Regions from separate parts of the Homo sapiens genome. Here region 1 is linked to region 2. Evidence: fine-mapped expression QTL. A gene starts in region 2. The other region holds a variant in brackets. All regions are shown on one strand. Distances are from middle to middle. Region 1 has its middle 78 kb from the start of LINC01881. Region 2 holds the start of LINC01880 (long intergenic non-protein coding RNA 1880).

What was found. PIP is the estimated chance that this variant, and not a neighbour inherited with it, causes the effect.
Region 1: its variant is fine-mapped to the expression of LINC01880 in atrial appendage (GTEx, PIP above 0.99).

The regions. Positions count from the first base shown.
Region 1 is chr2:242,164,294-242,168,693 of GRCh38, reverse strand. No RefSeq gene overlaps it. Among named protein-coding and RNA genes, the nearest start is that of LINC01881, 78 kb to the right of the region's middle. The variant A/G (reference allele first, on the strand shown) is at 2,706.
Region 2 is chr2:242,082,082-242,086,481 of GRCh38, reverse strand. It overlaps LINC01880 (long intergenic non-protein coding RNA 1880), which reads left to right and starts at 2,344. Exons shown (of 4, transcript NR_146651.1): 1 at 2,344-2,386.

The sequences.
Region 1 (4,400 bases), 82 kb before region 2:
GGAAGAAGATTTTTGAGCCACTGAAATTTGGAGGTTGTTTGTCACCACAGTTTAACCTAGCCCCCATTGACTGATGCACGGCTGAAGAATGAGTCCGAACTGGATCTGGACAAGACATGTGAAGAGAGCTCCAGGCTGAGTTAAATTCAAGTGTTTTCTTAAAGATAACAGTGAGCACGATATGTTATTGGGGTGGGTGTGGGATAAATAAGGTATATCAGGTGAGAATAATAAGAAACTCAACTTTAAAAGAAGGTGCTGATTTGGACTGTAGACAGATTCAACTGCCCTGCTTAGCATTTGCGATTGTGATGGATGAACTAATTAAGAGCCCAAAATGAAAGCTTGGGATAAATATCTGAGGGTGTCTAATATCCCAGTTTTTCATCCTAGAATGGGCAGAGTCCTTGACCCCATTCTAGGGAGACTTCCAAAAGAAAAAAGACCTGCATTTCTTCAACAACCCACATAGAGAGACTTTCCTGCACTTTTGACCTGTGGCTAACACTCCTTACCTTTCATTCTGTCATCAGTGTTTTAGGGAAACACCTTTAACTCTCTACGATTTACAGGTTATTAAGTGGCGCTTACAATTCCCTCCAGAGGTGAAAAAGACATAATGATGGTGTCTGAGCTCACAGCAGCAAGCAGGCGTGTGTGCTCAGCAGCCACGTGGCTCATCTGCTAGGAGCTTGCTAAATACGATGTTCTACAACATTGCTTAACACAAGGGGAGACGCTCCTGACTTGGAGAGTTTAATTGCTCACCTACTTCTTTTTCTGCCCTCTTGGGCTTCTAAAATGAAAAGAACCCTGGGGTGATAAAGTGAGTCAAAGGGGTACCAGGTGCATCACAGCAAAATAGATTCCTAAAAAATCCCTGGCCTAAGATGATACCCTTGGCTGGATACGTTTGAATGTGCTGATAGTGGACATGGTAGAGTGAAGGTGGTTGAAATGTTCATATTAAAGAACTTCCACCCAGATTGCAAGAAAAGAGAGAGGAATGGAGATGGCAGCACGAGTCCCTACAATAAAAGCAGATGTTTTGAGACCGGTTATATTTCTTCCGACAAAAATTAAAGACAGAAACCAAAGTTTAGCCTGAGGCTACAATTAATTGGGCAATAAGCCGAAGGCACATATGGCATAGACAGATTTAAACATTTCTCCCTTATATTAATACAAATACTAAAATTACAAATACTTTGATTCCAAATAAAACAAATATTTAAAAAATTTAATGAATAAACACTGGGGTCTACAGTAGTATTTGAAGGAGATCTCACAAACAGGTTTGGTTTTTGAAGGTTAGAACTGGTGGTCTAGAGAATTCATTTCATTCCAGAGAGAGAAAGAGAGGAATTTCTTGGGTTCCTTCAGGAATGTGTCTAGCTTTGCCTCATGTTTGTTTGAACGATGGATACGGCAGAAGAAAGCATGAGGATTTCACAGATTTAAGGTGCAAAAAGTCACTGGGTTCTCTAAGAAGTCTGGGATTCTTCTGCTGCAAAAATAAGTTTGTTGAGAAAAAATGAGTTGGAGGAGGCTGTTATTGAAGTGAAGCAGAATTGTTTTTACTAATCTGCTTATTACCCACTCTGCAGTGTGGAAACAAATTATTCATGCACAAGGTCCTCTTACTGTTCCTAGAATGCAGTGGAAAGAGAACAGATTAGTTTTTCTCACTCAGAACACAACCCCTAGAAACATCCTACCTCAGATGAGATATTGCCTAATTATTTTCAAAGGACAGTGAAAAATTATGGATGTAATGTTTGCTGCAAAATTAATACATGCTAGAAACAGAAGCATCTGGGTCACAGCTATATTAGAGCTATCTGTGTTCCCCTGTCACTGAGATTAAAACAAAAATGTCCAATACAATCACTCACAGCATGGGAGAGGGGAAGTTGAAGGATGGAAAGGCCAGGCATAAAAGGATTTCAGAATTTCCGTCCATAAGGAAGTAGCTTTGTGCATTGTCTGTTACTGTGTGCAAGGTGAAGTTTGGAGAATGAAAACGTGCAGTAACAACGGCTCCTTTGTCCCTCTCACCTCTCCAGATACCAAGTTTCAGACATGTTGCATTTTAGTTGAAAGGTTGATATAATTTTTTTTAAAGAACACTTGCGGTGTTTGAAGTGACAAAGGCTGCTGTGACAAAAAAGCAGGGAAAGGGATTTTTTTTAAAAAGCAAACAACAACAACAAAAACCCCACAGAAAAGCAAACAACAAACAAACAAAAAACAGAGGAAGAAGTTGAACACCCTGGGCTGTGACTACTTCCAGGAAGGGGCTACAAGAGGCAGTTGGAAATTCTATTTGCTTTGCAACTGTGGGTCTTCCAGCCTGCTTCCTTTCTAAAGTATATTACTCTGCTTTTGGTTCATGAAATTATCCATTTCTGTTTTCTGGAACAGCTATGTATTTTCTTTATCTATCATCTATCTATCTACCTGCCTATCATCTATCTATCTATTTACTATCTATCTTTTCTACCTTTCGCTATCAAGAGCTTGGGTCAAGCAGGATAGAATTCCAGTGTATATTCACTCTACCATTTAAAACAAGAGCTCTTGTAGGCATTCTCCATCACATCATAAACCTGAGCTTTCTAAAACAGGGTGTGGCAAACTACCATGCATGGACCAGGTCTGACACAGTCTGCGTTTGTAAGTAAAGTTGTAATGGGACACAGCCA[A/G]TACATGTGTTAAAAAACGTCTCTGGTTACTTTCATGGTATAATGGAAGACCTGAGTCATTAAGAGAGAGACCATATGGCTTGGAAAACTTAAAATATTTAACATTTAGCCCTTTGCAGAAAATATTTGCTGACTCTTGTTTTAAGAGATCTCTGTTTAGAATGCTACCTATTGCCTTCTGGATAGAATCACAACTCTTTACCACGATCAACACAGCTTCAGCCCTGCTTCTATATCCAGCCTCATCTATTTCTGCTCCTCCTCCTTATTTTCCTTCCGGACATGCTGATGAATTGTCAGCTTCCCAGATGTGTGAGAATCTCTCCTCCCTTCCCAGCATTCTCATGCTCTCCCTCTGCCTCTCAAGAACTTCCTGCCCCATCTCTCATGACAAATCCCTTCTTCATTCTTTAAGATGCAGCCCCTTTGCTCCTTCCTTAAAGATGTCTATCTGGCTCTATTTTGGGTGACATGCTCCTTCTGCATCTCCCAGAGCCACCCTGTGTGTGTCAGCTACAGCATTTCTTTGCATCTCTGTGTCATATATCACCAAATCTGCCTAACCTTGAGTGAGTCACTGCATGACAACTTCAGACTCCACCAGCATTGTCCCCACCAATCAATTATTTTCAACCATTTAAAAATGTAAAAATCATTCTTGCTTCATGGGCCATACAGAAACAGATGGTGGGCAGAGTTGGCCCAGGGGCAGACCACTGTTTGCTGACCACTGCCACACTGTCTTAATCAAGGCAGCTTTTATGGTGAGCCATGGTATCTAGTAATTTCTCCCATTTTTGTCCCTTTTAAGGGCCCTTACTTGGCCCTTTGCATTTCCATATAAATTTTATAATTAATTTGCAGATGTCCACAAAAAAGCCTATTAGAATTTTAATGGGACAGCTAATGCTAGAAGGGTAATTTTAGGAGAAACAAGAGATGCTTATAAGTTGTGTGTGTGTGTGTGTGAGAGAGAGAGAGAGAGACACAGAGAGAGAGAAAGAGACAGAGAGAGAGAGAGACAGACAGAGACAGAGAGAGACAGGGTTTCACTCTTGCCCAGGCTGGAATGCAACGGTGCAATCATGGCTCACTGTAGCCTCGACCTCCTAGGCTTAAGCAATCCTCCCACATCAGCCTTCCAAGGAGCCAAGACTACAAATGTATACCAACACACCTACCTAATTTTTTTGACTTTTAGTAGAGATGGGGTTTCACCATGTTGCCCAGGCTGGTCTCAAATTCCTGGGCTCAAGTGATCCACCCACCTTGGCCTCCCAAAGTACTGGGATTATGGGTATGAGCCACCATGCCTGGCCTTTTAAAAAAGTTTGAGACAGGGTCTCACTCTGTCACCCAGGGTGGAGTGCAGTGGTGTGATCATGGCTCACTGTAGCCTCAACCTCCTGGCTCAAGTGATCCTACCACCTCAGTCTTCCATGTAGCTGGGACTACAGCTGCGTGCCACCACATCTGGCTCATTTTTTTTTTCTTTTTTAAGTAGAGACAGGGACTTGCTATGTTGCCCAGGCTAGTCTCAAACTCCTAAGCACAAGCGATCCTCCCGCCTCGGCCCCTGAAAGTGCTGGGATTGCAGGCATGAGCCACCACACCCGGCCAAAAGTTGCTTTTGAGGAGTTATTGCTGTGTGGATGTGATATAACCCTTTCTGTCATCTCTTCACAAAACTTTCTG
Region 2 (4,400 bases):
GAAATAGCAGGAACCCACAGAGTAACATCAGAGTCCACAGAGTAATATCAGAACCCACAGAGTAAAAACAGGACCCACAGTGTAACATCAGAGCCCACAGAGTAACAGCAGGAATTCACAGAGTAACATCAGAACCCATAGTGTAATAGCAGAGCCTACAGAGTAACAGCAGGAACCCACAGAGTAATAGCAGGAACTCAGAGTAACAGCAGAAACCTACAGAACAGGATCAGAAACCCATGGAGTAACAGCAGGAAGCCATGAAGCAGTTCTGTCCAACTTAGGTCAGCATATTCATGGTCTTGGGTCTTCTTTGTGTGTGCTTTCTACCAGGACTGGGCTTAGCTCTGTGCTTGTGAAGAGTAACCCACTCAGTGCCCTCTGAAATTTCGCCACTGGAGGAGGAGAAAAACCCCAGAGGGGCGGGGAGAAACGCTTTTCAAAACACATGGTGCAGCTGGAGATTGTGGTGCAGTTGCCCAGGCAGAAGGCTCGGCAGGGGGAAGTAGTGACCAGGAGGGAGGTGCCTCCTTAACCACAGAGATTTTTTGGCAACCAACTTATTGAAAAATCACGTTTTAAAATTTTCTTTAAGTCAAACCCTACAGAACCTAAGGAGCTGGCTCCTCCTGGCAGGAAGCTGGGAGAGTGCTGGTCACAGTGCACCAGGTGCCCCCTGCCTCACAGGGGCTTAGGGTGGTGGTGAGCACAGGGGCCCCACGCTTCTCCAATGCACACCACACAGTCGTCTCCTCTGACCTTCCCAAATGCTGCACGGACAAGTGTTTGTAGTCCCTAACTCTCAGGACAATGTAGACTTGGTATACCTTCGGGCACGGGGAATCCCATCCTTCTTCCTGTTCCTGCCGCTCTGAAGCATGTGGTGTATGTTTAATGGGGATTTTACACAATATGGGAAGACCACTTCTGCTTTCTATGCAGTGATAATACTGCAATAAGAAAAAATGAACCAAGCCACCAAAACAAAACAGTACCACCTGATGCAGAACTAGGAGGGAAACACAGCAGTGTCTCAGAGCTAATGCAGCAGCCAGGCACCACGACGGTGTCATGGGTACAAGGAGGAGGTGTCTCAGAGCTAATGCTCTGTGCTGACAGCAGCCAGGCACCACGACGGTGCCATGGGTACAAGGAGGAGGTGTCTCAGAGCTAATGCTCTGTGCTGACAGCAGCCAGGCACCACGACGGTGTCATGGGTACAAGGAGGAGGTGTCTCAGAGCTAATGCTCTGTGCTGACAGCAGCCAGGCACCATGACGGTGCCATGGGTACAAGGAGGAGGTGTCTCAGAGCTAATGCTCTGTGCTGACAGCAGCCAGGCACCACGACGGTGTCATGGGTACAAGGAGGAGGTGTCTCAGAGCTAATGCTCTGTGCTGACAGCAGCCAGGCACCACGACGGTGTCATGGGTACAAGGAGGAGGTGTCTCAGAGCTAATGCTCTGTGCTGACAGCAGCCAGGCACCACGACGGTGCCATGGGTACAAGGAGGAGGTGTCTCAGAGCTAATGCTCTGTGCTGACAGCAGCCAGGCACCACGACGGTGTCATGGGTACAAGGAGGAGGTGTCTCAGAGCTAATGCTCTGTGCTGACAGCAGCCAGGCACCACGACGGTGTCATGGGTACAAGGAGGAGGTGTCTCAGAGCTAATGCTCTGTGCTGACAGCAGCCAGGCACCACGATGGTGCCATGGGTACAAGGAGGAGGTGCCTGGTTTTCGGGAGCTTGCCATCTGAACAGACCCAAGGTGGCAAATACACAGTGAGAAAATGGGGCCATGAGTGCTGTAATTACCTACAGAATGTTTAGGGGGACTGGGAGCAAAAACAATCCCCTCTTTCAGAAACCAATCCTGGAAGGTGCTGGAAGGTTGTACTAGCTGTGAAAGTCAGAGGCCACCAGGCAGCTATCGTGAGACCAAAGGCAGTAGTCAGCTCAGGCAAGCCGGTTTCCTTATTTATGTCAAATTCCTCAGTCTTGGGTCTCCTTATCTTTTAAATAAGGAGTTAGAATAGAATTTGAGGGCTGTTCACTCAGGCATCCATGGTGGCTGCAGCATAAGGAGTGTGTGGTGTCAGGATGGGAAGGGCAACATGGAGACTGCATGGCCATTGACGTCTGAAAGTCTCTGGTTGCCAAAAAGAATCTATCTACAACAGCATTCATCCTGACAGCAGCCAACAGGCAGCCTAGACCTGGCATGCCACAGCTCCTCTAGGCTCTGAACCCCTCTCAGCTGAGCCTGGTAGATGCCAGCTGACCGGCTGCAGCCCCTGAGTAGAGGTTGGCTGTCCTAGCAATAGAGTAGGGCGGGGGCACAGCAGACATGGGACCATCATCTGGATTCCTAGACGTGCAACTGCAAGTGAGTACATAACCTCCTGAGCCCCAGCTCTCACCTGAAAGCTGAGTTAGGCGCACACACAGGAAGGCAGAGATGGGTCCAGGGCTGGGCTTCTGGTTCCTCTACTCAAACTCTGCTGCTCCCTGCCCCTCTGCCATCCCTGCAAGCTCCTCACTGACCATGCTTGTCTCAAGCGTTCTCTCTTCCTCCTGACCTCCTGGGGACTTCATAAATCCAGTATCTTTTTAAAATAATCTATTATTTTAGGCTCAGGGCTACATGTACAGGTTTGCTATACAGGTAAACTCATGTCTGGGGGTTTGTTGTACAGATTATTTCATCACCCTACATGTACAGGTTTGCTATGTAGGTAAACTCATGTCTGGGGGGTTTGTTGTACAGATTATTTCATCACCCTACATGTACAGGTTTGCTATACAAGTAAACTCATGTCTGGGGGGTTTGTTGTACAGATTATTTCATCACCCTACATGTACAGGTTTGCTATACAAGTAAACTCATGTCTGGGGGGTTTGTTGTACAGATTATTTCATCACCCTACATGTACAGGTTTGCTATACAAGTAAACTCATGTCTGGGGGGTTTGTTGTACAGATTATTTCATCACCCTACATGTACAGGTTTGCTATACAGGTAAACTCATGTCTGGGGGTTTGTTGTACAGATTATTTCATCACCCTACATGTACAGGTTTGCTATACAGGTAAACTCATGTCTGGGGGGTTTGTTGTACAGATTATTTCATCACCCTACATGTACAGGTTTGCTATACAGGTAAACTCATGTCTGGGGGTTTGTTGTACAGATTATTTCATCACCCTACATGTACAGGTTTGCTATACAGGTAAACTCATGTCTGGGGGGTTTGTTGTACAGATTATTTCATCACCCTACATGTACAGGTTTGCTATGTAGGTAAACTCATGTCTGGGGGGTTTGTTGTACAGATTATTTCATCACCCTACATGTACAGGTTTGCTATACAGGTAAACTCATGTCTGGGGGTTTGTTGGACAGATTATTTCATCACCCTACATGTACAGGTTTGCTATGCAGGTAAACTCATGTCTGGGGGTTTGTTGTACAGATTATTTCATCACCCTACATGTACAGGTTTGCTATACAGGTAAACTCATGTCTGGGGGTTTGTTGTACAGATTATTTCATCACCCTACATGTACAGGTTTGCTATACAGGTAAACTCATGTCTGGGGGGTTTGTTGTACAGATTATTTCATCACCCTACATGTACAGGTTTGCTGTGTAGGTAAACTCATGTCTGGGGGGTTTGTTGTACAGATTATTTCATCACCCTACATGTACAGGTTTGCTATACAGGTAAACTCATGTCTGGGGGTTTGTTGGACAGATTATTTCATCACCCTACATGTACAGGTTTGCTATGTAGGTAAACTCATGTCTGGGGGGTTTGTTGTACAGATTATTTCATCACCCTACATGTACAGGTTTGCTATACAGGTAAACTCATGTCTGGGGGTTTGTTGTACAGATTATTTCATCACCCTACATGTACAGGTTTGCTATGTAGGTAAACTCATGTCTGGGGGTTTGTTGTACAGATTATTTCATCACCCTACATGTACAGGTTTGCTATACAGGTAAACTCATGTCTGGGGGGTTTGTTGTACAGATTATTTCATCACCCTACATGTACAGGTTTGCTATACAGGTAAACTCATGTCTGGGGGGTTTGTTGTACAGATTATTTCATCACCCTACATGTACAGGTTTGCTATGTAGGTAAACTCATGTCTGGGGGGTTTGTTGTACAGATTATTTCATCACCCAGGTATTAGCCTAGTACGCAATAGATAGTCTTTCTGATCCTCTCCCTCCTCCCACCCTCCAGCCTCAAGTAGGCCCCAGTATGTGTTGTTCCCCTCTGTGTGTCCATGTGTTCTCATAATTTAGGATATGAGGATAATGGCCTCCAGTCCCATCTATGTTCCTGCAGAAAACAGGATCTCATTCTTTTTTATGGCTGCATAGTATT